Linked DNA regions of Homo sapiens: region 1 is linked to region 2. Evidence: fine-mapped expression QTL. Tissue or cell type: whole blood. Region 2 holds a variant in brackets; the other region holds the start of a gene. All regions are shown on one strand. Distances are from middle to middle.

Region 1 (2,901 bases), 97 kb after region 2:
ACGTCTTCCCTCGAATTGAAGCGGAGGATTTAGTTGTAGATTTGGTTTGGCACCTTCCACTTTAAGGAAGATGTAAAAACTAAGGCGCAGGTACTCCAGCTGCAGGGAGTGTTTTTTGTCCCCGCTCCCCTGTCCCCCATAAAGAAACAGGACCTCAGGTGGTGGGCGGGCGGGGAAGGAGAAGGGATGTTTCTAAGTCTACAGGGGAGAGTGTAGAAAGAAAGAAGGAAAAGGTAAGAGGACTCCACAGTTTCTAGGTTTTGTTCTTCTTTTTTTCCCTCTGGACAGCGGTGGCAGCTGATCAGACACAATAGCTGGCAGTCCCCGGCCGCAGTGAGGATAAAAATGACCCTCAACAGCACCAGCAGGAGCACCGAGAAGGGGAGGGGAGTGTGTATGGGAGGGGGCGAGGATGAGGGTGACAAGGTGACAAACGCTGCCTCTGACTGCGAGCAACTCCCCCTCCAGCCCCGCGAGGCTCGGAGCCGGGGAGCCACCTCCCCGGAGCGGGGCGGGGTGGGAAGGAGAGGCCGAGGGGGCGGTGGCCTTCACCCGGGGGCGGGGAAGAGGGCGGAGGGAAGCCTGATTTACCAGCCCCTGATTGGTTCGCGTTCTCTCGTCGCGTCTCCCGATTGGGTAATTTGCAGCGGGAGATGTTGTGAGGCACGGCGGGGCGGAGCGAGCTGCCGGGGTCTGTGACAAGGCCCGGGAATTGGGTGGGGAGGGTGGCGGTTGTGCCGCGGCTCCGGAGCCGCTGTGACCTGGAGTGTGGCGGACAGAGAAGCGCAGCCGCCTCTCCACAGTTCCGCTAGCCGCGCCAAATTCGCTCAGCCGCTCTGCAGAATTTATAAAAGGGAAAGAACTGAATGAGCAACGCTTGGCTAACTTCCCCCTTCCCACCACAGGAAGAGATTTTTGCTGTGAGGCGTGAGGGGACACTCCCTTATCTGGAAGTCCCACGTCTCGTCGCAGCTTCATTGCCTTCCCGCTGCAAAAAAGGGGTGGGGGCACAATTTGCCAAGCCCTGTCCCCCAATCTAGGACCTTTGATCCCTGGAGTCTGCAGATGTCGCTGTTATAGGCTTGTCCCCCTCTCCACCCCAGACGTCTACCACCAGGTCTCCTTTCCCGGGAGCAAGCCCATCCCTGGACGCTGCCGTTCAGCGCTTGGGAGACTGCAGGGGCGGGGAGCGTTGTGTGCCTGGTTTTGGGGTGCTGGGGGGCGAGGGCTTGTAGGTCCCGCGACCCACGGGGAGGGGGCAGGCGAGCACCCCGCTCCGGCCTCCGGCTAATCCCCCTTCTCCAGCGTCGGTTCCCCGGTCCCGTGTTATTCAAGACAGAAAATATTCAGCCCCAGAGCCTCCCCTGGGGAGGGGAGGGGAAGGAGGTGGAGTGGGAGGAGGTGGATCCAGGGAGGAAGAAGCGAGAAATCCGCCCCCGGGAAACAGCTCCGCGCGGCCACGGAGCGAGGCGCTTCTGTCACTTGGCGTTCGCGGGCGCCGGAGCTGGGCCCCGGCCCGGCCCGGCGAGGCGAGGGGAGAGTCCGGCGGCCGCCGCCCCGCCCCACGCCCTCCTGCGGCGGCCGAGAGCCCGGGGCCGGCCGGGGCAGGTCGCGGCGGTGCCTGGGAGCGGCCGGCCGGGGGCGGCGGCCTCGGAGCGCGGCGGCGGCGGCGGCGGCGGCGGCGGGCAGCGCGGGATCGTCCGGCTGCGGGGTCCGGCTCACGCCGGGCGGGCGGGCGGGGCGCGCTGTCCCGGAGCCGGCCAGCCCCGTGCGGATCCACTCGTCCCGCTTCCTCTGGTGCGTGTCTGGTTTCTTTTCCGTCTCAGCCGAGAGGGCGCTGCGCTCGCGGGCCGTGGAGTGCCCGGCTTGCCGCGGGCTCTCTCCCTTCCCGCCACAGGCCACCCGGCCGGGCGCTGGCTCGGGGCCGGAGGGAGCCCGCGGCGGGCGCCCGGCGGGGGCGGAGGGGCCGCGCCCGCGTGTGCGGAGCAAGGGCGGGCGGCGGGGCGGAGGGAAGGGCACAAAGGCCGGCGGTGGGCGCTGGGGTCCGGCCGGCCAGCCTTGGAGGAGGGGCGCCTGGGGCCGCTCATGAATATTAACCGAGCCTGCGGCCTAGCGCGTCCCGGCCGGGCCCGGCGCCCGGCCAGCGTCTCCGCTTCAGCTCGCCGCCGCGCTTCGGCCGCCGGGCCCGAGCGGGCGGGAAGGGTAAGGCCCCCGGTTTTGTCTCGCCCCGGGGCTCCTAGCACCTTTGAGAAAGTCCATATTGGGGCCGCTCTCCTCGGGAGCTCGAGGTCCCCGACCCGCCTCAGGAAGGGGCGGGGGAATCGTGGGGAGGTGGGTGGTGGTTTGCTTTTTCTCGTTTTTTCCCCCTAGGTGGCCACAGGGGAAGGGAAGCCGTGTCGAGTGGTAGTTGGGGGAAAAGCCGCGACTTCAGAGTTGCTCGGGTGTAGCTCCAGAATCATGCCCTGGAGCGGGAGCGGCGCCGGCGTCCCACCCGCGGCCGCGCACGCCTCCCCGGCCGTCCCCACCCAGCCCCGCCGCGGGCCAAGGAAAACAGCCGCCTCCTCGGGGACGCCGGCCGGGGCGGAGGGGCGGAGGGGCGGCGCCCGAGTCACCCGGAGACGCCGCCGAGCCCACGCCGGCCCCAGCCAGGCTGGCTTTGTGCTTGCGTTTTTGGGGGGCGGAGGGGAGCGAAGAGGGGGCTTGGAAAGTGTGATCCCATTTCAGCCTCGTGGGGGAGAAAACTTCACCGAAGTGTCCCTGTCTGGGTGATGCAGAAAACAACATGCACAGCCCTCTGCTCTACCCAGGAAAGACATGAATTAAAATGCACTTGAATGGGGAACATTTTTTCTTGAAGGCTGCATAACAGCCAGGTGTGTTTGACGCAACCGCTGGGCAGTT
Region 2 (2,901 bases):
ACTGAGGTAGTCTTGAAATGCATCCTTTACAGCTAAGGTGGACTGCTGGATAGACCCTTTTTTCTTTTTGTTAATGGATGGGGTCTTGCTCCAACCTAGCAGGTTGGAATGCAGTGGCGCAATCATGGCTCACTGTAGCCTCGAACTCATGGGCTCAAGCCATCTTCCCACTTCAGCCTCTCGAGTAGCTGGGCCCAAGCCACCACACTGGCTAATTTTTTAATTTTTTGTAGAGACAGGGTCTCACTATGTTGCCCAGGCTAGTCTCAAACTCCTGGCCGCAAGTGATCCTCCCACCTCGGCCTCCCAAAGTGCTAGGATTATAATCATGAGGCATCTCACCCGGCCTAGACTTTCTGTTTGTGTCAATTCAGTTTCATTCATTCATTTGACAAATATTTATTATTTAAGATATACTAGGCAGTGGCCCTTTACAGTACAGTGCATGTCTATTTAGTATGACCCTTTAGTATCCTAGATATTAGCCCTTTAAAAATCAAGAAGTATCTCAAACATGACTCCAGACTTAAATTGAATGATGATTTTTTTAAGAGATGGGTCTTGTTATGTTGCCCAGGCTTGAGTGTAGTAGCTATTCACAAGCACAATCACAGTCTCGAACTCCCTGGTCTCAAGCAATCCTCCCGCCTCAGCCTCTTGAGTAGCTGGGACTATAAGCACCCAGCTAAAATGATGATCCTGATCACCAACTAGATACTAGATATATAATGAGGCATGTTTTTAAAAATTACACAGATTCTTGCATCATTTATGGCAATAAACAAACCAGCCATCTTTCAAGTGTGATATTTCCCAAAGTACCCATGGAGGTGCTGGCACGAGCTTGCTCACAAGCAATCTACCCTGACCTTGAACACTCACCCCTGTTACCCAGCTCTTGTCTAGGGCTCCCCTATACAGACCCCAGGACAGGCTACTGTTGGAGCAGCCGAAATATACAAGGCCTCCAGCCTGGGCCTGCTGGGAGCAGGGGCTGGTGCCTCAGGGCATCCTGACTGGCTGGCTGGTTTCCATCCATTTTGCCTTGGCCCATGGACACTCCTGCCTGCTCACTTGACTTCGGGACCTGAGCTGACACCACAGCCATAGGCCCTTGGCATTTCCAGTCTGCTTCTGGCTTTGTGCCCTGTCTCCATGATCCACTGCTGCTCAAGCCCAAGCTTGACAGTCGTGACTAATTGGGGCAGGTCACCCTTTCAGCTCCAAGGTGATATCCCATCTACCTCCCTCTAGCTTGTCTGTCTCAAACAAAGGCATTTTCTTCTAACCCCCAGCAACCTCAGAATGACTCCTACTGTATGTACATTTACTTCCTAAACTATAAAAGCTAACAGAGAAAGAAATTTCCTTTATGTTCCTTAGAAACAAATGGGAGCAAATTTACTAGAAATCACCTTGCAGTTTCATCCAACCTCTTACTGTCTATGTTATCAACACATCATTTTACCTCTCTGGAACTCAAACTTAAAATGCAAGCACTAAGCTAACCCACTGCTGCTAGCTCTCCTGGTATAATACTGGAAGGAGGAGGTTAAGAGCATAGGCTTTGCAGATAGTCAGGTCTGTGTTTGAGATTTCCAATTTTCTTTCTCTTTTTCTCTCTTTCTTTTCCTTCCTTCGTTCCTTCCCTCCCTCTCTCTCTCCCTTTCATCTTTCTTTATTTCTTTCTTCTTTCTTTTCCTTCTTTCTTTCTTTCCTTCTTTCTTTCTTTCTT[TCTTCTTTC/C]TTTCTTTCTTTCTTTCTTTCTTTCTTTCTTTCTTTCTTTCTTTCTTTCTTAATGGGGGAGTGCAGCAACATGATCAGACTGGAGTGTAGTGGTGTGATCTCGACTCACTGCAAACTCAGCCTCCAGGGTTCCAGTAATCCACCCACCTCAGCCTCCAGGGCTCCAGCAATCCACCCATCTCAGCCTCTGAGTAGCTTGGGACACAGGCACATGCCACTTATGCCCAGCTAATTTTTTTTATTTTTGGTAGAGACGGGGTCTCATCATGTTGCCCAGCCTGGAAATTGACTAACTTTCAACCATGGACAAGTGGTTTAACCTCTCTGAACTTCCATTAAACAGAGATAATACCTACCTCATAGTGTTGTTTTGAGAATTAAATGAGACACTATATGTGCAGTTCTTACCAAATAGTATTAATCAACACACAGATAAAATATATAAATACATAGTTACATGTAAATATTTAGTGCTTACTTTTTTTAATCATTCATCTCTGGATACCTTCTCTTTCATCTCAGTCCTTGCTACTTCACAGCATACTTTAAGAAATAGTTACATGTTTCTATGGCCAGGTAATATTTGTCAGAACCTTGTTTTTTTTTTTTAATCAGGGTACAAAATTTTAGTTTTTAAAGTTACCTTTATCAAATCTATGGTTAAAATAGTTGTGGAGCTGCTCTAATTTGAACAGAACTTATTTTTTTTAAGTACAGATTATTTTGGCAACCATTTTCTGATCTGATTACAATAAAAATTTTTAAAAGAAGTTCCAGTTTTATTGCCAGCCACGGTGGCTCACACCTGTAATCCCCACACTTTGGGATGCCAAGGTAGGAGGATTGCCTGAGCAGGAGTTGGAGACCAGCTGGGGCAAAAATCCCATCTCTACTTTAAAGAAAAGAAAAGAAAAAAAAAGTTTCAGTTTTTGCTTTTGGGTTTTTGTTTTTTGTTTTTGGGGATTTTTTTTCTGAGACAGGGTCTCACTCTGTCACTGGAATGCAGTGGCATAATCATGACTTACTGCAATCTCCACCTCCAGGGTTCAAGCAATTCTCCCACTTCAGCCTCTCCAGTAGCTGGGACAACAGGCATGTGCCACAATCCCCAGCTAATTTTTTTTTAGTAGAGACAAGGTCTCACTGTGTTGCCCAGGC

What was found.
Region 1: it holds the start of ARHGAP21, and the variant in region 2 is fine-mapped to the expression of ARHGAP21 in whole blood (INTERVAL, PIP above 0.99).

Annotation. Positions count from the first base shown.
Region 1 is chr10:24,722,458-24,725,358 of GRCh38, reverse strand. ARHGAP21 (Rho GTPase activating protein 21) reads left to right here and starts at 1,472. Exons shown (of 26, transcript NM_020824.4): 1 at 1,472-1,797. RefSeq lists silencers at 353-732, 1,483-1,672, 1,703-1,772, 1,863-1,942, 1,963-2,322 and 1 more and an enhancer at 1,029-1,939.
Region 2 is chr10:24,819,021-24,821,921 of GRCh38, reverse strand. No RefSeq gene overlaps it. Among named protein-coding and RNA genes, the nearest start is that of ARHGAP21, 97 kb to the right of the region's middle. The variant TCTTCTTTC/C (reference allele first, on the strand shown) is at 1,736.